2 separate regions of the Homo sapiens genome follow, and region 2 is linked to region 1. The links come from fine-mapping of genetic effects on gene expression. A gene starts in region 1. The other region holds a variant in brackets. All regions are shown on one strand. Distances are between the middles of the regions.

The links. PIP is the estimated chance that this variant, and not a neighbour inherited with it, causes the effect.
Region 2: its variant is fine-mapped to the expression of DBH in esophagus muscle (GTEx, PIP 0.95).

What each region holds. Positions count from the first base shown.
Region 1 is chr9:133,630,131-133,642,600 of GRCh38, reverse strand. DBH (dopamine beta-hydroxylase) reads right to left here and starts at 6,238. Exons shown (of 12, transcript NM_000787.4): 1 at 5,891-6,238; 2 at 2,609-2,755; 3 at 137-394. The coding sequence starts at 6,229. RefSeq lists an enhancer at 4,238-4,973.
Region 2 is chr9:133,734,989-133,747,458 of GRCh38, reverse strand. SARDH (sarcosine dehydrogenase) reads left to right here and starts at 9,107. Exons shown (of 21, transcript NM_001134707.2): 1 at 9,107-9,205. RefSeq lists enhancers at 1,498-1,792, 4,163-4,222 and a silencer at 4,234-4,384. The variant C/A (reference allele first, on the strand shown) is at 6,351.

The DNA.
Region 1 (12,470 bases):
AGGTGCCTGAGGTTCCAGTGATAAGAGGACACCTGGTCCAACCAGGACTGTGGACAGCTCTCCAGGGTCAGGGACAACCCAGGCCCGGGAGGAAGGCAGGGCTGGGCGAGGACCTCGGCCCTGGACCCGCACGTACCTTGATAATGTGGTGCCGAGAGAAGCCCTTTGGAAGCTCCTTAATGTAGCACCAGTACGTGGTCTCCTGGCTGGGGATCTGGATATTGGGAGCTTGGACCTCCATGGTGCACGCGTCTGAGGGCAACTCCGGTTCGGGGATATTGGGCTTCAGGAGCTGCACCCTCTGCAGCCCCATCTGCAGGCCCGAGCCGTTGATGGCCTCCAGTGACCGGAACGGCTCCTCCAGGATCCCGTAGACCAAGTGGACAGTGCCGTCCTGCAGCCGAGACAGGGTTCAGCTGGTCGCCCTCTCAGAGCCCCCAGAGTTGGGCTCCTGAGAGGATGCCACATCCCTGCCCACCCACACCTACCAGGTGACACACCTCACTCTCATCTCTGTGAATAAGGGACCCTTGAGGCTTGCATGGCCCTGGCTGGGGCCAAATCCCGGGCTGACGACCCCCAGGATCCCCTATTTGCACCGGCCATCAAATACTTTTCTCTTCTAAACACATTCCACCTACATTCACTTAACATCCATTCAACCAGTGACTACTGGGCCCGCCGTGAGCCAGTGTGGCCGGAACATTTGTTCCCTCCACCAACCCCAAGGTCACTGGGGACTGGGTGTGGGGGATCATTGGTCAGTTCAGCAGCCCAGCCTGAGGATTCAGTGCCCTCTATGAAGGGAAGGAAACACCCTGGGGCTTGCTGATGGTCACGCTGAGCTGCGGAGCCACGCTATATTATGTAGTCACCACCAGCTTGGCAGGAGGGGACCAAGCAGCCACAGAAAGCTCCATGGATCTACGCGGTGCTGGAGGCCACAGGCAGACTCAGGAGGCAAGCTGTGGGGCTGGCTTCCTCACATGCTGTCATGAATGGAAACGGGGATCGGGTGTGGAAAGTGCCTTTCATAGCTTTCTGGGCACTCCACAGTGCAGACCCGTGTGGGTGGCTAATTTGCTCTTTGAGTTTGCGGAAAGCCGATGGGCCGCCCTGTGCAGGGGACGCCCAGAACTCCAGGCAAAGGCCCCTATACCTGGCCTGGGGCCACTGGGCTGAGCACACACAGGCATTGGCCTCCCCCTGTGAGGTGCTTCCAGAGGGTTCTCTGCTCACCCTTGCCTCGTCCACTGGGAAGCAGGGTAAGGGCTCAACAACCTCCTGGAAGAACACCTCTTCTGGCACCAGGTCTGCCCCAGCACACCCCGAACCCCTGGGTACATCCACTCCCCGTCTCCGGGCCTTAGTTTCCTCATCTGGCAAACAGCCAGCTGTTCTGTTTTCTTAGATTCCGTATTTGTCTATTTGGCATCTATTAATGGATTGCAGGCTCAAACAGATGGCCAGAGTTGTTTACACCTGCCCTTCCCTCCAACATTCACGCTTGTGTGAGAATCATATTCCCAACCCTCCAACCCGTCCCAAGCCCATATCCTTAGCCACCTCCTCCACCTGACTGTCACACACCAGGCCAATATTGCCTCAGCCCTAAATCACCCTAGGGCCAGGAACCAGGCAACTAGAGACCACCCCGGCCACCCAGAGCCCACCAGAATTGTCCAAATGAAGCAACTTCCCTGCCCTGCCTGGCCTTTCCCATGGAAACCCCAAGAAAGCCTCAGGCCTGGGCTCTCCCCTAGCTCCTGCATCTGCCTCCTGACCAAACCCAGGGCTCTGCAGGTGGCCCTGCACGGCACAGGTGCCCCTTCTCTCCGGAAATGCAATCAATCTTTCGATGGCACTGGCCTCCCGTGTGGTCACTCAGCTACACCCATGATTAAGACCTGGCACTAACGGCCAGCCCAGGCCACTGCCACACCAAAGGATTACTTACACAAGACAAAAGCTGTCAGGTGTGCTAGAGTTAAAAGAGTTTTGTCTTCAAGGGCAAGGTGGGTTGCTTTCCCTAAGAGGTTGGGGGGCTCTTAGAGCAGCATAAGAAGCCTATGGCTTTTACAATGTTTTATGGCTCCCATGAACTCCCAGAGTTGGTCAGGCCATACAGATCATCTAGTTCCCATCTCCATTTTACAGATGGGCAAAGTGAGGTCCAGAGGAGGGGGGCAGTTGTCCCGAGCCTCACAGCGAGCTGGCAACAGGGCCGGGATGGAAAGCCAGGTCGCCTGGGCTCCAGAATCCCACCTGATGGTTAACAGGACCAGGAGGAGAGAGACATCCAGAAGCAAGGTCTAGTCCAATGGGAGAGGCTTCAGCACAAGCCCCGCATCTAGAAACCATGTCAGCTACGTGTTGGCAAAGAGCTGCGTCTTTGAGGGCTCAGGGGCAATAGCAGAGCTGGACCATCCTAAGTGCTTTGGCCCCACCACTGCCTCTGGCCATCCTCCTTGGCTTTCTCTCTGTCATAGCTGGCCAGGCCCAGGCCCCAGACTTATCAGGGACAGGAAAGGTACTATGACATTGGCACAGGATGGCAGCATGATACACGCAGCCCACGCCCTCCTGGGTACTCGCGGCCACCCCTTACTTCAATGAGGTAATCCTTGGGGTCGCAGGTGCCAAAGGGCCTCTTGAAAAGCAGGGTCAGGCCTTCTGGGGTCCTCTGCACCTGCAGCAGCTGGTAGTCCTGCTGGGGATCCAGGTGGATCTGCCCCTTCTGGTCACTCCAGGCGTCCTGCAGAGACAAGCACTGGGCTCCAGGCATGAAGGAGCCAAGCCGGGCCAATCCACAGGGGAAGAGGGCATTCCCCGGCAGAGCTCCGCATTCATTGCCAGCTGATCTGGGGATGCTGGGCCTCAGTCCCTGTGGATCTGAGGGTTCTGCCTGGGGCTGTGGCTTCACTCACACCTTCTATCTCCATTTCTGCCTGGAGACAGTGGAGATGAGCCCCGACAGTGGAGTTGGTTCCTCCTCTGCAGCCAGGAACCAGGGCTGTCACTTGCCAGCAGGTCACAGGTTCTGTTAGCCATGGGCATTCCCGGGCCTGGCGGGCGGGACACTGAGCTTCTTAAGAAGATGCCTGAGGCTCCCAAGGCCTCCTCAAGACTGGGAACAATGCCTCAGACCAATGCTGCCCACATTCATGCAGGCAGGAGAGTTGCGGAGCCTCAGAAAGGGGAGAGTTGGGAACAGGGTGGGACATGAACAGGAAAGGAGAGAGAAACCAGGGTGCCACATCTAAGATGGTGATTGATAGCAGGTGCCCACCCTGCACTGGCACAACCCTGAGAACAAGCACTGCTTTATTACTTTATAAATACATGTAATTTTGGATTTTTTTTTTTTTTTTTTTGAGATAGGGTCTCGCTATGTTGCCTAGGCTGGTCCTGAACTCCTGGCCTCAAGCGGTCCTCCTGCCTTGCCCTCCCAAAGTGCTGGAATTACAGGCATGAGCCACCACACCCAGCCTGAAGCACCACTTTAAACCCTGCAGCCTAGGCATTGTTCCCCTCACCTTAGTCCCAGCCCTGCTTGGAGAAGGTAAACTGAGGCCCAGGGAGGCATTGGACCTGCTGCATTCTCCGAGGATGCTTCCTGGGATCTGGATCAGTGACCTCTGCCCTCCCCGTCTCCGGCCGCTCCCCTTGCACTGGGCCCTAAGGGGCAGGGACACGGTGGCCCGAGGCCAGGTCACATGGAAGACCACCAGGGAGACCCACTGAGAGACAGCGAGGAGCCTTCCCCAACAAGCAGGCTGCCCTTCGTACTCAAGAAGGGCCCTTCTTAGATTCCATATTTGTCTATTTGGCATCTATTAATTGATTGAAGGCTCAAACAGATGGTCAGAGTTGTTTACACCTGTCCTGCCCTCCAACATTCACACGTGTGTGAGAATCATATTCCTAACATTCCGACCCACACCAAGCCCATATCCCTAGCTACCTCCTCCACCTGACTCTCACACCCCAGGCCAATATTGCCCCAACCCTAAAACACCCTAGGGCCAGGAACCAGGCAACTAGAGACCACCCCAGCCACCCAGAGCCCACCAGAATTGTCCAAACGAAGCTGCTTCCCTGCCCTGCCTGGCCTTTCCCATGGAAACCCCAAGAAAGCCTCGGGCCCTTGGCCTTAAGGACTTTGGGTTGTGTTTCTTTTTAATCTTACATTCAGGGTAAAACATCTTTTCTTCATTTCCTTGAGAAAAAAGAAATCTGCAAAAGATACTGCAAAACTTTCCCTAGAGAAAAAAGCCACACAATGCAACCCCGCTGGGGACACCGCTGGTTTGCCGAGAGACTCATTTTAAACAGAGGCAGAAAGTTCGCCTGTGATATTTCAGCTGGAAATCAAGAAGATATTAGTTGAACATATTGCTTAGGGAGGAATAATAAGGCTGACATTTGCTTTCGTAGGAATTTGTTGTGCAAATTAACCTTGCCAGTGCACGGAAAGGCAAAGTCACCTGGCTTCCTCTGGCTTCCCTAGCAGCCGGGAAATGCAGGCAGGGGGGACGCTGCCCCAGAGAGGAGCAAATGCTCCTGCACTCAGGGTGCCTCATGGCAGAGGCTTGCGAAGAACCCCAAACTGTCAGCGATGGGGTTCAGCTGCTCCTCCAGACGGCTGACGGCTCAGAATCAGGGCTGTCCCAGGTCTTTCTTGGCTGGAACCTGAGCCACAGAGTGTCTTTGTGCACAGGAATCTGTGCAGCCCTATGGGTCAGAGCAGGGCCCTTCCCAGGCAGCTCCACTCACCCTACCTGGGTGGCCCTAAGCCTCACTAGCGACACAGGCAAGTGCCTCCTGGCCGAGTCTTGGGAATTGGAGGGGGCAAGCTCAGCTCCAGAAACAGCAGCCACCATCTGCCCTCATGAATTCACAACACCCAAAAAGGCAGAGAGGGACTCTCCGCCCCACCAGCCCATGGTGAGACCAAGATGCAGAGCTGGAGCCGGCCGCTCCGCACAGACACAGCTCCCCCGCTCCAGCTCGGCACTCCCAGATAAAGCAGGCACCTCCTGACTTCAGAAATAAAACTTTTTTGTCACTCCTTTGTGTGTTTCTGTGGAGAGAGTTGGGTTTCATCCACAAAGAAGCCCTGGTGGCCAGTCCCATGTGGAAAGGAAGGCTGGAGCAGGACCCATTGTAGGCGGTGGGCTCGCCCACTTCGGGGACCCCCTGCAGCTTGTGGAAGGGCCTAAAGTCCCCTCCAGTTTGAAGGGAAACTTTTCCCCTTTCTCCACCCTGTGAAACAAGAGTGGAGGTAAATTTGGACGGAAAGGAGTCAAGAGCCCATCCTAACAGTTTTGGCTGAGCCCTGTGGGGCTTGTTCAACACCTATGGGTAGGGGCAGGGTGTCTGCACCTGCTCAGTTGGTCCACGGGTACAAGCACAGTAGGTCAGGCTGGATCCCATGGGTGTGCAGGCCTCATGCTGTGCCCAGCCACGCGCCACCACCTGGCCCACATCAGTGGGCATGTGTGCTCTGGGGACGTGGTACTAGGCATTGTTTACAGGGCCGAGGGTCGTGGGGTCTGTGCTCATGCGCGTGTGGGGTGTGGAGCGGCACGAGTGTGTGTGGTGTGTGCGTCCTCTGTGTATAGTTCCATTCCTTGGGATTACTGGGTCCCATGATTTGGGGCGGGCAGTCAAGGACCATGGAAAGCATGTCTTTCCTATTTTGTCCTCAAACTGAGATCCCCATGATGCCCAAGCTCGGGGTGCAGACTTGGCTCAGAGCAGAGTCAACTCAAACACTGACAGGTGACAGAAGAACTTTCTGGGTTAAGGAGGGTGAGTGCAGAAAGACGGCCAGATGGGGTGCCGGGTCAGGAAGGGTTTGGAGAGCTGGCAGGGAGGAGAGACTCACCGCAAAATAGGCAGTGTCCCCATCGGTCCAGAGCACCACGAGATCTGCGTTCTCAAGCTCGCCACGGTCGGACATCCCAAACAGGACGCCAGCCTTGAGCCTCCGCACCAGGAGCTGGAAATGGATGGCCTCCTGGGTGTAGCTGACATTCCATGAGAGCTCCAGGGACCCCTCCGGGTCCAGGGGGATGTGATAGGGGAGGGGGCTCTCACGGGGAGCCGAGCCCTGCAGTGCGGCCACCAGGATGACCAGGAAGATGGCCACTGCTGTGCTGTACATGAAGGCTGCCTCCCGCATGCTGGGGCCGGGCAGGCTGGCCCAGCGACTGAGGGCGGGCATGGCTGGGGTGAGCTCTCTGGTCCCACCTGGCCATTTATGCCCTGGTCCTGAATGGGGTGGGTCCAGGCAGCACGGGTAATCACATTTGTCTAGCGGGGAATCCAATTTTCCCTCCCACAAGCTTGCGCCCCAGGCCAAGCACTCAGCCTGCTGCCCTCCTCTAATTGGCACTAATGACACATGGACGTCATCAGTGGGAGTTGAAGTAGACAGGCGGATGCTGTCCCTTCTGAGATGGCTCTGAAGAGCTGTCCCAAAAGCAGATGCACCCTGCAGCCAAGAGGCCTTTCAGACACCCTCTGGCCAGGCACCAGCTGACTGCCTCACAGGCTGTCTGGCCCAGTCCCCAGTGGGATGGGGTCTGCGTCGCCTCTACCCACGGATGAGCAGACTGAGGTCCGAGGAGCTGCTCCAGGCTGACCAGTGAAGGATAGGCCCGTAGCCACTGCAGGCCTGGCCTAGCGAGCAGAGCCGTTTGTACAATACTAGCAGGTGGGCCCATTTCAAACCAAAAATAAGACAATCTCCAAATAGTCCCTGTGTTTAGACACTCTCTCCACGGCCTGCTCTTCCCACTTTTGTCTCCTCTCAATTTTTCCACAGCCTCCAGCTGGTACCACTGCTGCTCCAGAAGGCGCGAGAGCATCATAGGGAGTGGGGGACATGGGCGTGGGGTGCATTGCTGGGGACAGACGGAGCTGGAGCTGCACAGGGGATAGGCAGGCTGCAGGGTGCACTGCTGGGGGTGACAGCCTTTAAGGAAAAGAGGGTGAGTGACAGGCCTGCTCCCCTGTCTCTGAAGCTCCCAAACCCACAGCTTCCTCTTGCCCAGAGCAGATCTGGCCTGAATTTGAAGCCTCTCAGGGCAGCTGGCCGCAGCCCTGCTTCTCCCACACCTGCCACAGGACCTTTGCCATCATCCACCCGTGGGCCCGAGGGTCAGTCTCACCACGGCACCTCTCCCTCCTGTCCTCTCCCACAAGTAGACTGAGGGCAGCTGCCTTCAGGACATTCTGCTTGATCCCTCCAGCTCCACCCCCCAGGCTGGGTTGACAGATCTCTCCAGCTGGACTAGAAGCTGTCCCTCCTCCCCAGCCTCCTCCCTCCCTTCCTTCCTTTTCCCTCCTGTTTCTCGTCTCTCTGGAGAAACCCAGAATCTAGCCTTAGGGGCACATTCATGTCATAGGCTGACAGCAACATTTAGGTCCTTAAATACCCATGACAGCAGGTCTGGAGGCTGCTTCAGCTCTGAGCTCTACGCTGTAGAAAGGAATGACTGTGTCTTTGCACGAACGTGAAATTTGGAGAAAGTGCCAGCCTTCCCCTGGCCCTCGCAGGCAGTGCTCTCTGCCCCACAGTGGCCAGGCCATCCTGCAAAGCCAAGCTCAGGCCATGAGCCCCTCCCCACTGATTGCACCCAGAGGGGCACCGTTCGCCCCCACCCACAGCCCAGGCAGGTGAGGTCCAAGTGCATAATCACCTGTGCAATAGAGTGTGGCATTGGTGTGAAATTGTCTCCCAGGCCAGGGGAAAGACACTCTTGGGAGTTCTCTGGTGAGCCTTGGGAAGGGTCTCAGCCTCCGAAGGCCTGGCTTTCCCATCAGGACATGCCACCTCCGTCGCCTGAGAGCACCTCACCTTCATGCCTCAGATTAGTTCCAAAACCTCCTCACCTGTGCCTTGTAAGCAGGTGTCTGCTGCATCCCGGACATTCACTCTCGGGACTGGGGAGCGGCCACAGCGAGCCGGTGATACGAAGAGCCTCCGGGGTGGGCAGGCACTGGTGTTCCCAGCACGGGATAACAAAAGCCAGCAGAGGCAGAGGTGAGGGTCACGGGCTCCACAGCACACCCAGCTCAGGGGTGAGCCCTCCCAGCAGCCTGGTGGCCACCCAGGTGGCTCCAGCTAGACAACAGGCTAAACGAGCACCAGCTGGGGCCCGCGTTGTGGGAAGGGGGGCACCTCTCTCCCCTCTGGGGTATTGAGGCCCCAGGCACCCCTCCTGCTCCTCCGGGGTCAGAGCTCTGGGGTCATATCCTGCTCCGCCCTCCTGAATGCGCAGCTGGCGTCCTCAGAGAAGCGCTTTCCAACCCAGCGCCTCCTCCCCATCTACAGACACAGGAAGTTGGATGACAAGGACAATTGATCCCTCCAGCTTCCTTCAACCCAGCGGTTCTGTGGAGCGAGAGGCAGTGAAGAGCCCCTGATGCTACCAGCCCTTGGACGGCTCAACACACCTCCAGGCCTCGCTCCTCTCCCGGATACGCCAAAGACCAACAGCTGCTGGGAGCTCTAAGGAGGGACGGCAGGTGCGGTCTCGTGCTCAGCAGTGTTATGCACACATGTTTATTTTTAACAGGAATCAAAGACATTTTCTTTATCCAACTCAAAACTGGCTTTCCTCTAGCATTTGACAGAAATGATTCAGCTGATTCCAAAATACTGATAACTAAGTCCTAGGGAGGGACAGGAGACACAAGTCAGGCCGCACCAGGGCTTCCCCTGCCCTGCCTCCATCCTGGCCAGCCTTGGGTGGCTGGGTGTGCGATCATCCCTGTCTCAGACACAGGAGAGTCAGCCTCGGAGAGGCGAGACAATGCGCCTGAGCTCACAGGGTGGGCCAGTGCCTGGGGCAAGCACCCCAAAGAGGGTGCCCTGAGCTGGAGGGGGCTGCACACCTTGTCAGCCAAGGTCAGAAAAATTCCACTGGAGTCAAGAGGAAGGGACGCTCAAATGAAAAATGCAACCGCAGAGAAAATCTGCGGAGACTGGGGCCGGGCGGGAGGGAGCGAATCCAATCGGATGGCCCCGTGGCTGCGCCCTTCCTTGCATTAATGGATTTTAAAAGGGAGCAATCCGACCCCAGGGTAAGGAAGCAACAGTCAGCTCTCCTCCTGCCCTCACCCTCCTCAGAGGTGACACCTGCTTGCCAGGTGCTCTCTTGGCCACATGCCTCCCTGTGGTGCCCCGCGGGGGGCTTTCCTCCCTGCTCCCACCCCTGCTGCCTCTGCTCCAGTGTCTGGGTGCACGTTGCCCTCCAGAGGTGGCGGTGGGGGTGGGGATGGGAATGGGGGTGGGAGTGGGGTTGGGGGTGGGGTAGGCCGGGGAGGTGCAGGGTGTCACGGCCACGGTGTCAGGAAATAAGCCCCATTCCTGCTGCTCAGCGCCTGGCTTCCCTCCAAGGCGCATCGACGGCTGACCTTGTTTAGAACCAATTTCAGCTTTTTAATAAGCCCTTTGCTTTCCTGAATCTCTCTGATGCCATCAGCCTTTGCAGGCTGTAATTCCCCATCGCCTCTGCCACATGAGGCTGGCTTCTGCTGACGTCCTAACCTCAGGCAGTGACAACCCCAAGTGGAGCGACGGTGGTGCAGACTGGAGCTGGGTGAGTGAACAGGCCAGGCCACTCCCCAGTGACAACGGGGCCTGGCCACAGGACAGCACTGTCCCTCGCCTGTGGCTCAGGCTCTTAGGGACCTCCTCTTGGCAGGAAAAATTCAACTATCAGTCTGATGGCAGTGCCTAGACCTGACTTGTGATGGGATGGATTGGGAGCTGCTGGGAGACGGTGACTCTGTCCATCACAGAGCCCACTCCAGGGTGGCACAGTCCCCTTGGGGAACTTGGGGCAGCTGGCCTATGTCCCTCCTCGTCCTGAGCATAGGGGCTGCGGTATGAAAGTTAAGAGGCACATTCTGGGCTGGGCACAGTGACTCATACCTCTATAATCCCAGGACTTTAGGAGGCAAAGACGGGAGGATTGCTTGAACCCAGGAGTTCGAGACCAGCCTGGGGAACATAGCATGACCCAGTCTCTACCAAAATAAAAATAAAAACAAATTAGCCAGGCATAGTGGCACAAGACTGTAGTCCCAGCTACTCGGGAGGCTGAGGCGGGAGGATCGCTTGAGCCCAGGAGTTTGAGGCTGCAATGAGCCCTGACTACACCACTGCACTCCAGCCTGAATGACAGCGAACAACCCTGTCTCAAAACAAACAAACAAAAAGCATATCCTGCCTGAGGAGGCAGCGGTGGCACCATGCCTCTGCCTCTGCTCATAAGCGTAGGTGGCCGTGAGAGTTTGAATGCTTGGGATATCCCATGGCCTGAGGTGTCCAGGGCCTGGGGCACTGAGTAGGGTGGCTACAGTGGGATCAGCATGAGGACTGGGCCCAGGGCAGGTCACAGAGGTGCCCAGAGCACCACTGAAAGCTTTCCTCAGCTACTGGATTAGAGGCACCCTCTGGCCCTGAAGCTCTGTGCCAAAAGCAAGGGGCCACTGATCCCAGAAGGGGTCGGTATCGTGAGCCCCAGTGACACTCCCCTGGAAGCTCCCAGGGAAGCAGAACCCAGGAGTCTGTGGCTGGCTCCAGGGCTGGGGCTGCCAGGCCTGCCAGGCCACTCCTGTGTGACCCCAAGCAGCCCCACTGTGAGCAAGTCCTCCACTGTCACTGGCAGGCGGCTGGCCTGGGCAGGACACAGCCTCCCCCGCCTCCATCTCTCCTCCATACACAGGGGTCAGCGAGATGGGGAGGTGGACTCTCACACCTGCGTGGCCTGCACCCCCAGCTCTGGGCTCATGCTCACATACTCAGTTTTACACACACACACACACACACACACCCCTCCAATAATTTGGCCTCAATCTTGGGGCTGAGGCCTGCTGGGCCCTGAGGAATCTTACAGGGAAACCCTTTCTGGGTCCTGCTTCTCCTTTTCTCCATAAGGATGCGTGACTGCTCCTCTCTCTTGAGCAGCTCATGGGGGGAGGTGCATGTGCCTGATTTTTGCATTTTCAGCTTTTCTGAAGGGACCACACTGCCAGGATGGTGGTGGGTCCTGAGGCAGTAGCTCCAGACCACACCCAAGCCACAGCGTAACTGTGGGCACCAGATGGAAAGAGAGGCCCTGAAACCTGCCGGCCATGTGACCCACCCGGACAGTCCCCACAGCCCTGAGCCTTCTTTCCTCATCTGTGAAATGGCCATCTTGCTCAGGACCGGCACTGGCGCTGACTTCTGGCTACAGAGGCTGGGCCCTGCGTGGCCTGCACCAGCACTCAGGGCTGCTGGTCTTGCCCCCCGCTGGCTCCTGCCAGCCATGACCCTCTTCCTGAGGCTGTAGTTCATCTGTCAGTAAGCTTGGTCACCTCAGAGATCCACCAGGTTGACCTACCATTGACCCAGAATGGGGCCGATGCAGTGAGGGCTAGCGAGACAGCCCCGGGCTGCCCTCACCCGCATCCATCTCGGGGGCTGCTGCACCCACTGACATCACAGGGTCCAACAGGCAGGGCTCTGGCCCAGGAGGGTCTCGGAGAACATGAGAATCCGCCTCCCTCCCTGGAATCTCTCTGAGCTTCTGGCGTGTGGTGTGACAGACAGAGGGATGTCCCCCAATGGCCACGTCCAGATCCCTGCAAGTCGGGTAGGCTACCTGGGGAAGGGACATTCAGTGTGATTAGATTAAGGACCCGGAGGTGGGAGGTGGTCTTGGATTGGCTGGGTGGACCCCATGTCATCACAAAGGTCCTACGAGAGAGAGAAGGAGATGCATTGATGGGGTCCAAGGAGAGGAGGCTGCTTCCAAGACGGAGCAGGGGCCATGAGCCAAGGGATGTGGAGGCCTCTGGTAGCTGGAAAAGGTGGGAACAGATTCCCCTCCCAGAGCCCCCAAAAGGAGCCAGCTCTGCAGACACCTTGATTTTAGAGCTTCTGACCTCCAGAACTGTAAAAAAAAAAAATCGTGTTGTTTTAAGCCTCAGAGTTTTTGGTCATTTGTTACAGTGGCCACAGGAAATACAAGCGCCCTCCTCTCCTAGTGTCTGCTGGCACCGTCACACTCTGGTGGGACCCCCAAGTGCAGTCGGAGACTGTGTTCCCTTCTTTTTGTCCTGTTATGGTTTTGGTTCTCCCAAAAGCAGACGCTGAGGCAAGGGTCTGGATGTGAGCAGGCTGTGTGGAAGGAGAGCTCAGAGTGTGCGGAGACGGGTGGGCAGGGGAGTGGGAACACTCACGAACCGTACTTTCATAATCAGTTTCCTCCATGGGCAGTAGGGACTCAGTTCCAAGGGGACCCTGGAGAGACTGTGGAATGCACCCCAAAACTGTCACATCAAGGGTGAAGAAGCCGGGGCCCTCACCTTCCCACACCCATCCCTCACTGGCAGAAGGACGCTCCTGGGGTATCAGAGCCCAGCATGGGGGCTGCCGGCTGGTGGGCCAAGTCCACTCACACAGC
Region 2 (12,470 bases), 100 kb before region 1:
ACTGCCTTACAAGAAATGCTAAAGGGAGTTTCTCAAGTTGAAATGAAAGGACAGTAACAACATGAAGACACAAAAGTATAAAAACTCTGTAAAGATAAAAATATAGTCAAATTGGGAGTACTCTGCCACTGTGTCTTAGTCCATTTTGCACTGCTGTAACAGGATGACACGGACCGGGTAATTTATAAAGAACAAAAATGTATTTCTCACAGTTTTGGAAGCTGGGGAGTCCAAGATCAAGGCATCAGCATCTGGTGTCTGGTGAGGGTCTTCTTGCTACATTCTCACACGGCAGAGGCAGAGGGTAGAAGAGCAAAAGGGGACAAACTTCTTCCATCAATCCCTTTTATAATGGCAGAGCCATCATGAAGTAAACACCCCAAAGGACACACTTCCCAATACTGTTGCACTGGGGACTAAATTTTAATATGAATTTTGTAGAAGACAAAAACATCCAAAGCATAGCATATTGTAATGGTGATACATAAATTATTTTAACTCTAGTATAAAATTTAAAGAATAATTATAGCAATAATTTGTTAATGGATACACAATATATAAAAGATGTAAAGTATGACCCCAATAACATAAAATGTGGGAGAGGAGAAATTAAAGTGTAGAGTTTTTGTATGTGGCTAAAGTTTAGTTGTTATCAGCTTAAACTGTTATAACTATAAAATGTTGTATATAAACCTCCTGGTAACCACAAAGAAAAATAACTGTAGTAGACCCACAAAAGATAAAAGGGAGTCAAAGCATACCACTACAAAAAAAAAAAAATCTCATAAAGACAGTGAGAGAGGAAGATAGGAACAATGAGACTACAAAACAATCAGAAAACAATTAACAAAATGGCAGTAATAAGTCCTTACCTATTAATAATTACTTTAAATTTAAATTGATTAAATTATCTACTCAGAAGCCACTAAGCAGCTGAATGGATTAAAAAACAAAACAAAACAAAATCCAACTATATGCTGCTTACAGGAGACTTGGTTTAGCTTTAAGGACACAGATAAGCTGAAAAATGTTATTCTATCCAAATGAGAAGCAAAAGAGAACATAAGTGGCTACACTTATATCAGACAAAATAGACTTTAAATCAAAACTATCCCAAGAGACAAAGACAGTTGTTATATAATGATAAATGGATCAATTCATCAAGAGGATATAACAATTCAAAAAATACATGCACTAGGCTGGGCACGGTGGCTCACGCCTGTAATCCCAGCACTTTGGGAGGTCAAGGCGGGCAGATCACAAGGTCAGGAGTTCGAGACCAGACTGACCAATATGGTGAAACCCTGTCTCTACTAAAAGAATACAAAAATTAGCCAGGTGTGGTGGTGCGTGCCTGTAGTCCCAGCTACTCAGGAGGCTGAGACAGAAGAATCGCTTGAACCTGGGAGGCGGAGGTTGCAGTGAGCCGAGATCATGCCACGGCACTCCAGCCTGGGCAACAGAGCAAGACTCTGTCTCTCTGTCTCTCTGTCTCTCTCTCTCTCTCTCTCTCTCTCTCTATATATATATATACACCCAACATGGGAGCACCTAACTCTGTAAAGCAAATATTAACATAACTGAAGGGAAAATAGATTACAATAATAGTAGAGGACTTCAGCACTTTAAACAGTGGACAGATTATCCAGCTGGAAAATCAATAAGAAAACAGGAGACTTGAGCAACACTACAGACCAAATGGCCCTAACAGATAGATTCAGAACATTCCATCCAATGGCAGCAGAACACACATTCTTGTCGAGTGCACATGGAACATTCTCCAGGAAAGATCATATGTTAGCTCACAAAACAAGTCTTAACACATTTAAGAAGATTGAAATCATATCAAGTATCGTTTCCAACCACAATGGTATAAAACTAGAAATCAATAACAGGAGGAAAAGTGGAAATTTTACACATGTGTGGAAATTTTTTTTTTTTTTTTTTTTTATTGATCATTCTTGGGTGTTTCTCGCACAGGGGGATTTGGCAGGGTCATAGGACAATAGTGGAGGGAAGGTCAGCAGATAAACAAGTGAACAAAGGTCTCTGGTTTTCCTAGGCAGAGGACCCTGCGGCCTTCCGCAGTGTTTGTGTCCCTGGGTACTTGAGATTAGGGAGTGGTGATGACTCTTAAGGAGCATGCTGCCTTCAAGCATCTGTTTAACAAAGCACATCTTGCACCGCCCTTAATCCATTCAACCCTGAGTGGACACAGCACATGTTTCAGAGAGCACAGGGTTGGGGGTAAGGTCACAGATCAACAGGATCCCAAGGCAGAAGAATTTTTCTTAGTACAGAACAAAATGAAAAGTCTCCCATGTCTACTTCTTTCTACACAGACACGGCAACCATCCGATTTCTCAACCTTTTCCCCACCTTTCCCCCGCTTCTATTCCACAAAACCGCCATTGTCATCATGGCCCGTTCTCAATGAGCTGCTGGGCACACCTCCCAGACGGGGTGGTGGCCGGGCAGAGGGGCTCCTCACTTCCCTGTAGGGGCGGCCGGGCAGAGGCGCCCCTCACCTCCCGGACGGGGCGGCTGGTCGGGCGGGGGGCTGACCCCCCACCTCCCTCCCGGACAGGGCGGCTGGCCGGGCAGGGGGCTGAACCCCCCACCTCCCTCCCGGAAGGGGCGGCTGCCGGGCGGAGACGCTCCTCACTTCCCAGACGGGGTGGCTGCCGGGTGGAGGGTCTCCTCACTTCTCAGACGGGGCGGCCGGGCAGAGACGCTCCTCACCTCCCAGACGGGGTTGCAGCCGGGCAGAGGCGCTCCTCACATCCCAGACGGGGCGGCGGGGCAGAGGTGCTCCCCACATCTCAGACGATGGGCGGCCGGGCAGAGACGCTCCTCACTTCCTAGATGGGATGGCGGCCGGACATGTGTGGAAATTTAACAACACAGTCCTGAACAACCAATGAGTGGAATAAGAAATCAAAAGGGAAATAAAATAATATCTTGAGGCAAATGAAAATGGAAATGCAACATACCAAACCTCATAGGATGCAGCAAAAGTGATTCTAGGTGGGAGGTTTATAGCAATAAATGCCTACGTTAAGAATGATCTCAAATAAACAACCTAACTTCACACCTCAAGGAACTATAAAATGAGGAACAAATTAAGGCCAAAGTTAGCAGAAGGAAAGAAAGAAAGATCAGAGCAGAAATAAATGAAATACAGACTTAAGAAACAATAGACAGGATCAACAAAACTAAGAGTTGAGTTTTTTTGAAAAGGTTAACAAAACCCACAAACCTTAGGCTAGACTAAAATAAAAAAAGACTCAGATAAATAAGAAAATTATAAATGAAAGAGGAAAGATTACAATTGATACCAAAGAAATAATAGACAACTATGCCAACAAATTGGATAACCTAGAAATGAATAAATTGCTAGAAGCAGACAGCCGACCAAGACTGAATCCCAAAAAAAACTAGAAAATCGGCCAGGGCGTGGTGGCTCACGTCTGTAATCCTAGCACTTTGGGAGGCCAAGGCGGGTGGATCACCTGAGGTCAGGAGACCAGCCTGGCCAGCATGGTGAAACCCCGTCTCTACTAAAAATACAAAAATTAGCCGGGCATGGTAGTGCAGGCTGTAATCCCAGCTACTCAGGAGGCTGAGGAAGGAGAATCAATTGAACTCGGGAGGTGGAGGTTGCAGTGAGCTGAGATCGTGCCACTGCACTCCAGCCTGCGTGACGGGAGCAAGACTCCACTTCAAAAAAACAAACACACAAGAACAAAACAAACAAACAAAAAACTAGAAAATCTGAACAGACCAATAATGAGTAAGGAGATTGAATCAGTGATCAAACACCTCCTAACAAAAAATAGCCCAGGATATCTGATGCCTTCGCTGGTGAATTCTGCCAAACATTTAAGAAAGAATTAATGCTGATTCTTCTCAAACTCTTCCAAAAAATTCAAGAGGAAGGAACACTTCCAAACTCATTTTATGAGGCCAGAATTACCCTGATACCAAAGCCAGACAAGGACATTACAAGAAAAGAAAATTATGGGCCAATATCCTTGATGAACAGAGATGCAAAAATCCTCACCAAAATATTAGCAAACCAAATTCAACAGCACGTTACAAAGATCATGCATCCTGATCAAGTGGATTTTATCCTTGGCGGAGGTGACTTCTTTGAGGTGACAGCCCCTCTGCTGGTGTGGTCTGGAAGAGAAGATAGGAGCCAGGCTGAGCCTAGGCTGTCAGTCCCAACCAGTGTAAGATCACCCCCTATCTGCCTGCTAGTCCCCTTCTGAGACTGGGTCCAGCTCCGCCAGGTTGTAATACTCACGTGTGGCCACCAGGGGCGGTGTTTCCTGCCAAGGCTACTCTTCCAGGGCAGACAGCCTGGAGGTGACCAGTGACTTTCATCCGTGGTGGGCTGCTGCCCTCACCTGAGTATCTGGAAGGGCATTCAGATTCTGGGGCCCAAAGAGAGCACTGCACAGTCCTCCCACCCTCCGTTCTGTGCAAGACGCACAGTTCCCTGGCTGCCCAGCCAGCACCAGCATCTCCTTTGAAGGTTACTCTTGCTCCTGCAGCTGGATGGAGAGTCCTGGTCAGTGCTGGGAGTCCTGGTCAGTGCTGGAAGGGCAAAGCTCCCAGATGCCAGCGGGAAATGCAAAAGGGCAAAATGCAGGGTAAGAACTGTGGCCAGCTGGAGTAGGAGTGACCCACCTAAGTGTGTCCAGTGGGTTTTGGGCCCCATGTGGCCAGCTTTTCAAGATTGAAGCTTGGAAATCTGGATTTTTACAGGGAGTTTCCAGGGCAACACATACAAAGACACAAAGCACAGCATGGGTCATGCCAGGGATCCCCTGCCCTTGGGCAGGCACATGAGAGCCCTGGAAGGTTTGGCTGACTAGCTGAGGGGTCTAGGCGGTGCTTGTGGGTCTCAGACCCTGGTGAGCCCAGGCTTCCAGCTTCTGCCCTCCCTCTTGCTTCTCCATCCTTCTCTCCAAATCCCCAGTGCAGACTGGGGCCCTACGCCAGGGCTGAGGTCAGCTCCCCACTGTGGGCAGGAAGTCCTTCTGAAGCCCCATGTCCTGTGTCCCCATCAGACGGTGGCAGTGCCTGCGGCCATGGACACAGTGCCCCGAGATGATTTCTTTTCTTTTTTCTTCTTTTTGAGACAGAGTCTAGCTCTAGTCTCAGGCTAGAGTGCAGTGGCGCAATTTCGGCTCACTGCAACCTCCGCCTCCCGGGTTCGCACCATTCTCCTGCCTCAGCCTCCCAAGTAGCTGGGACTACAGGCGCGCACCACCACGCCTGGCTAATATTTTTTTAAAATTTTAGTAGAGACGGGGTTTCACCGTGTTAGCCAGGATGGTCTTAATCTCCTGACCTCATGATCTACCTGCCTCGGCCTCCCATAGTGCTGGGATTATAGGCGTGAGCCACCGTGCCCGGCCCCGAGATGATTTTGAAGCACTCCTGGCACCTGCCTGGCATAGGCTCAGCCGCCGGGATCCACCATGTTTCCATGGATTCCACCGCGGATTCCATCCACCATGTTTCTTTCACTCACAAACAGTGTTAGGCCATGGAGTGGAGAGGGTGCTCCGGGGAATGAGGATCTGCATTCCGGCCCTCAGGAGCCCGAGCCCACAACGGCCCCAGGCCACAACTGCCAGGTGGGGGTCACTTCAGCAGCTCATTCCTGGGAATGCCTGTGCCCAGATGGCTTCAGGCCTGGAGCAATTTCCACCTGCCTCTGTGCATCGGTGTCAGGCAGATGGGGGCAGCCACCTGCTTCTCAGGAAGGACCACCCTTACCCTGGGAGGGCATCTCTTCTACTTTGACAGAGGATAGAAAACATTCTGTCTTCATGAAATCACGGGGATATTCAGTGGTAGTTTTCTTTTTCAGGTTCTTATTGAAAAAATAAAATCTTGGCAGTGTAAATTCAGCCCTTGAAAATTGTTCTGGAAATTTCCCTGGCCCATGAATCACCTGGGTCTGGCACCTGTTGGCTGTGTTCTCCCTCAGTTTTCCCATCTCCACGATGGGTAGCAGTTGTTGCTGTCTCATTTGAGATGACACGTGTGAAGCCTTTAGCACGCTGCCTGACTCCCAGGAGGCCCTCAGAGGTGACTGGGGCACTGCCTTCCTCCTGGTCAGTGGTGATGTTGGCTCTTATAGTTTGGGTTGGGATGCTGTTGCTCATGTCCTCTTTCACAGGGCTGCACGCAGAGCTCGGTGGAGGAGCCTCCTCCCCCAACGCCTCCGCTTCTTCCTCCCTGGACTTCTGCCCCGTCAGAGGGCAGCCTGCAGGCACCTCTCTCTGTCCTGGAAGCCTGGCCAGCAAGTCGGGGCCAAGGGCTGGTGGGGG[C/A]CTGCAGAGAGGGCCAGCCTGAGCCAGAGGAAGAGTCTTGGGGTTGGCTCAGGTATGTCCAGGCCATGAGGGCAGAGGAACAAGTCTACCACAGTCCCCACTGGAGCGGTGGCGGGGAGGCTGGGGAGGGCAGTGAACCTGGAGGCAGCCCCTCACTCCTGAATGTAGAGTCAACTGTGACTTTGATTTGCACCACAGTTTTCTTCAGAGTGCACTAAACATAGAGTCATACTCATTTTACGAGACCAGCATTACCCTGATACCAAAGCCAGATAACATTACAAGAAAGAAAATTATAGACCGATATCCTTGATGAACATAGATGCAACAATCCTCTCAAAATATTAGCAAACCAGCTGGGCGCGGTGGCTCACACCTGTAATCCTAACGCTTTGGGAGGACGAGGTGGGGGGATCACTTAAGGTCAGGAGTTCGAAACCAGCTTGGCCATTCATGGTCAAACCCCGTCTCTACTAAAAATACAAAAAATTAGCTGGGCACGGTGGTGCGTGCCTGTAATCCCAGCTACTTGGGAGGCTGAGGGAGGAGAATCGCTTGAACCGGGAAGGCGGAGGTTGCAGTGAGCCGAGATCGTGCCACCGCACTCCAGCATGGGCGACAGAGCAAGACTCCGTCTAAAAAAAAAAAAAATTAGCAAACCAAATTCAACAGCACATTAAAAAGATCATGCACCGTGATCAAGTAGATTTTATCCCTGGTGGGGTGACTTCTTTGAGGTGGCAGCCCCTCTGTTGGTGTGATCTAGAGCAGGACTGAAGGAAATTTACTCAGGGAAATTTACAAGGCTTCTGTGAAACTGACATGGCAGGGCTTCCAGCCTCCTGTTCCAAGATGGGAAAACTAAGTCTCAGCAAAGGGAGAGGTGATAAGACCAGCCCGAGATCGTACAGGACCCTGTCTTGGCCTCCTTGTCCGGAGCCTGGCCTCTCCAGAGCTGTGACTACTAGTCCCTGGGGGGAGACAGCCTTTCCACCTCTCCCAGACCGGAGCTGGGTGCTAACAGGCCCTGCCGGATGAAAATCCTACGATACTAACAGACAGCTAACAGGCCGGGACCGGCCCCCAGCCACCACCCCTTGTCCAAAGTGCAGGTTCATTGTGCTGCCCTCTTGGCTTGTAACAGTTTTGCAACAGTTGCAACTTGTCTTTGAGTGCAGGGACAGGAGAAGTGTGGGCTACCCGGCCACTGCCCTGGAGCTGTGGTGACTGCTGCGTTTTTCTCCCATGCACTTGCACGTCCAGGACTCCTGGGAGAACTTGGGCCACACTCCTTCCTTGCCCTCTTGAGCTCATTCGTCACCCTGTTGGGTGAGCACAGCCCTAGCTCAGGCCACTGGGCAAGCCACACCATCCAAAGAGGAGGTCCTCTGCCCCAGGACCCCCACACCACCCCAGGTAAGCCTCAAACTGGCGGGGCCAGCTTTCCACTGGGCAGCCAGGGGCCTAAGCCAGTGGGCCCTTTGCCTTTGAGGCAGGGACTGAGAATGGTGTCAGCACGTGGTCAGGCCCAGAGCCCAGGCCCCCTCCTCTAAGAGGTCCTCCTGGATTCCCTGCTGGAAGGAAGCCAGCCTTGTGGTGTCGTGTCTCTCCCTGGATCTGTCTGCTTCGTGGACCCTGAGCCCCTCGAGGGCAGGGGCTGGGTCTTAGATGTCACTATAGGTTTCCCAGCAGTGCTTTGTACACATTGGGCATTCAGTAAATGTAGAGGATAGACAAGCTGGCAACAAGACAGTCGGACATCCTCGGTGTGAATAAGAACACAATGATTTGATTGGTATTAATTACAGCAGTTTACTATACGATCGCTTCCGGTATTGGCAGCTGGCATCATTACAATATTAACAGACTGCCATTGAAATGCCCCGTCTTTGATCCAGCGCGAGGAGGAGATGTGACTTTCCATCAGCACCTGTTCTGATTCTTTGGGCATCCAGAGGTGTATTCTTTCTGGGTTTCCTCCACACCCCTCCTCTGGGTGTCTACTTCTGTCTGGGAAGGGGTAACTTGCCCCAGCCCAGAGTCAGGCTGCAGCATCCGGTCTGCCTCCTCCACCAGCTTGCTGTGTGGCCCCCTCCCTGGGCACTGCTGTCCCCAACAGTCAATGGAGGCTGGAATCCCTGCCCTGGGGGCTACGTGCTGTGCAGTAGCCAGTGGCTTGGGGGCATCTCCCCAAACACCAGAGGGGTCTGGGAGCTCGGGAAAGCAGGACGCAGACAGACCAGGAGACCCTGTCCCTGGGAAGCTGACCCAGGCCTTCTCACTCGCCTCTGAAGGCAGTGAGCATCCTGTCCCTGGGGGTGAGCAAACTGGGGCATGTGCTGAGATGACCTCACCAAAGGAGCCTCCCTGCAGTGGACGGGCCCCTGGCCCAAGCTGCTGCTGACCCCACCTTTCCTGCCCACCCTGCCTGTGCATAGCTCCTTCTGGGCGCGGGGAGCTCGGGCGGCTCCAGCAGGCAGGTGGTGCCTGGGTCTACTGCAGCAACCCTGAGGCGCCTGTTTCAGAGACGAGGAAATGAGGGTTGGAGCGGAAGGGTGACTGCCAGGTCGCCTACGGGTAATGGGGCATGGGGTTCACAACCCTGCTCTGCCGCCCTCAGAGGGAGCTGCCCACAGGGCTGGCCTAGAAGCCCCAACTAAGCTGGCCTAGAAGCCGCAGTGGTGGGCGGTACGCTCCGCCCAGATCCTGGGCGGAGACATGGGGCTGGCAGCGAGGGTGGGGGGCGGGGGAGGCCTGGAGTTCCGGCCAGGCCACTGCTTGGGAAGCAAGAAGGTGAAGGCACCTCTGCTGGGCCAAGCACTCTTAGGGCCGAGGGGCACTGCAGCTGACAAGAGGTACTTGGAGGTACACCCCCAGGGAGGGACGAGGCTGGGGCCTCCCCTATGTGGGCGGGGCTGGGCCTGGTCAGATCTGGCTGGGATCTCCCTCTGCCTCTGGCTGCAGGGACCATCCAGCTGCATGAGCAGGACCAGGGTTCACCATATGGGCAGCTGCCTCCCCGCCCCCTGCCGCTCCTCCCCACAAGTCTGCCTACCCTCACCAGGCGAAGGTGCCAGGCGCTCTCCTCGCTTGACCCCCACCACCCCCTGAGCCTGGGAGGAGGAGGGCGTTCCTGGGTCCTCTGCTTTGCAGTGAGGTTAAGTTGTTGCTCGAGGCCCCAGTCCTGTGACAAAACCCCCACCCATCTGTCTGATCCCAAGCCCAGGGCTGTCCTCAGCCCTCACTCCTGGGAAGCTGACTCAGGTACGAGACAGAGTTGGAGGGGGCAAGAGAGTGGGTTAATGTGGAGGCAGCTGTTTCCAGGGAGGTGGCAGGCAGGAGGGGCTCTGGGCTGTCCCCGCTGGGGCCGCTGCCAGCCCCCAGTCTGACAGTCAGAAGAGCCCTGACTGACCAGGCAGGTGGTGAAGGGGCACGTGGCAGCCTCCGGCGCCAGCAGCTGTCGCTTTTTGGGCACAGTCGGAAGGAGGAGGGAGGCTTTTGCCCACAGCTGACCAGGTGTGCTGTGCCATGCGGCACCGTGGTGGGTGGTGGGTGGTGGGGTGGGGGTGTTCAGCCTTGGAGGGCCTTCCTCGGTGCCACTCAAGCTGGCTTTCCCCTGGTGGGGCACCACTTTTGGGGGCTCCTGGAAGACTGTGGACCTTCAAGGACTGAAGGTATGTACAGACACATGCAGGAGGCATGCCTCCTTGTCCGGGGCCACCTCTGCAGGCAGGAGCCAGGCGGGCTGACACACTGAGGGCTGAGAGGCTGAGGACAAGCTCCAACACCTCCTCACTCCCCTACGCCGCTGCAATCAGACTCCCTGCTCCCTCCCTTGGGATGGGGCACTGGGGCAGGAGATGGGGGGCAGCCCTGACCAGCCTGAGAGCTGGGATCCCCCTCACATCCCCCACTGTGCCTAGGACAGGGTTCTGGGCTTCGTCAGGGCTTGGGCAGTGCCCACAGTTCAGGTGGGACAGAGTGTGGCAGTGGGTCCTGAGTCCCCCTGGGATGGTCAGAAGAGGGGGCAGGAGAGAGTCCCTGGCACTGCCACATGGAGGCCCTATGACCCTGGTCACCTCAGGGAGCCTCTCCGTGTGTCAGACTCCCCCGCTGTGAAGTAGAGACATTATCATGTGTCTATAGGTGTTCAATGAGAGTGAACGAACGTGCATAGCTATGGTCCACTCTTGAAAAAGGATGCTGACTTTCTTAGATAATTATATCAGTCATTCATACTGACGTAGGTGGCACAGCACTTCACATCTTGGATCACAGCCACATCCCTTTCACTTTTCCTGCAGATCCCAGAAAAGGGCAGTGGAGGTCCACACTGGGCAGGACACCACCCCACCCTTCCATTGAGGGCTGTTGTGAGACCTCCGTTCTTAACTTCTTAGTTTAAAGAATTTAGGCTGGGCACAGTGGCTCATGCCTGTAATCCCAGCACTTTGGGAGGCCGAGGCAGGCGGATCACCTGAGGTCAGGAGTTCGAGACCAGCCTGGCCAACATGGTGAAACCCTGTCTCTACTAAAGATACAAAAATTAGCCAGGCATGGTGGCATGCACCTATAATCCCAGCTACTCGAGAGGCTGAGGTGGGAGAATCGCTTGAACCCAGGAGGCAGAGGTTGCAGTGAGCCAAGATCATGCCACTGCACTCCAGCCTGGAAGACAGAGTGGGACTCTTTCTCAAAACAAACAAACAAACAAACAACAACAACAACAACAAAACAGAATTTAAACATGAGACACACAGCAAAAGAGCTGCAACATAGAGCAATTTATTGCAAAAGAAAAAGAACATTTTGAAAGTTAGGTGCGGATGCACCCTGGGAGAGAGAGGATTCCAGGCGGGGGGCTGCTCCTGAGTGTGAGGCAGCATTGATGATTGTTGGAGAAACCCCCTTTCAGGGAGTCTTCCACAATTATTCATAAGTGGGTGGAAAGAGAGGAAGAGGTTACTAGGCAGCATGTGATGGCTGGTCCTCTGGGTGCACATGCGGTAGCTGTACATGTTTGTTCATACGTCACATGTCTCTTTCGCATCTTTTTTTTTTTTTTTTTGAGACGGAGTTTCACTCTTGTTGCCCAGGCTGGAGTGCAATGGCACAATCTCGGCTTACTGCAGCCTCCACCTCCCGGGTTTAAGCAAGTCTCCTGTCTCAGCCTCCAGAGTAGCTGGGATTACAGGCATGCACCACCACCCCCGGCTAATGTATTTTTAGTAGAGATGGGGTTTCTCCATGTTGGTCAGGCTGGTCTCAAACTCCTGACCTCAGGTGATCCGCCTGCCTCGGCCTCCCCAAGTGCTGGGATTACAGGCATGAGCCACAGAGCCCGGCCTCATTAGCATCTTAAAATCTCCACCGAGGGGTGTGTTTTTTTACTATTAGAATGAGCAAAGGGTCAGTTTGAGGACAGGTAAAATCAATGTGCACATGCCCTCTCCAGGGGAAAGGCCCTACTGCAGACAGCTTTGCTTGAACGAGCTCAGTTAACACGAGCTCAGTTACAGTGCAAACGTGGAGGCTGATTGTGTGGATTGCAGTCACCACGGTTGCTGCGTCCCCAGGACATGGTGACTCCTTTGACTGCCTGTCCTGCCTCGCCTGCACCCAAGGAGACATCCGTCTTCATCAGCGCCTTCTCTCCTGAGAAGGAGGGCTCCCTCTTGCATTCTCATTGTTATTGGATTTTTCTGGCTGGGCAGATCTGGGAGGGTTTCCTGAAGGAGGAGGGAGTCGGGGTGGGTCAGCTGGGAAGGAGCAGAGGGGAGGAAGGCCTGTTAACCCGGCTTCTGAGCCCCTACTCTGCAATCCCAGGTGGCCCCAAGGGAGCAGAGCCGGGACACCACATCCTTCATCAGCTTCCGCCTTAGTCCCACCGAGCTTTGGGGCTGATGAGGGGGCAACCCCTCTTGTCTGGGTTTGGGAGGGGCCTGCCCAGGAGGAGGTGCTGGCTCCAGGCTTGGGGGTTGGGTGCCCCGTCTCGAGGCTGCCTGCCGATACCCTGCGGCCACTGCTGTAGCATCCACGATGCCTCTCCCTCCTCCTGGCTCTCTGTCTGGGAGCGCAAGTGTCTCCATCACTCAACACAACCCCCTCCCTGCCCTGCTG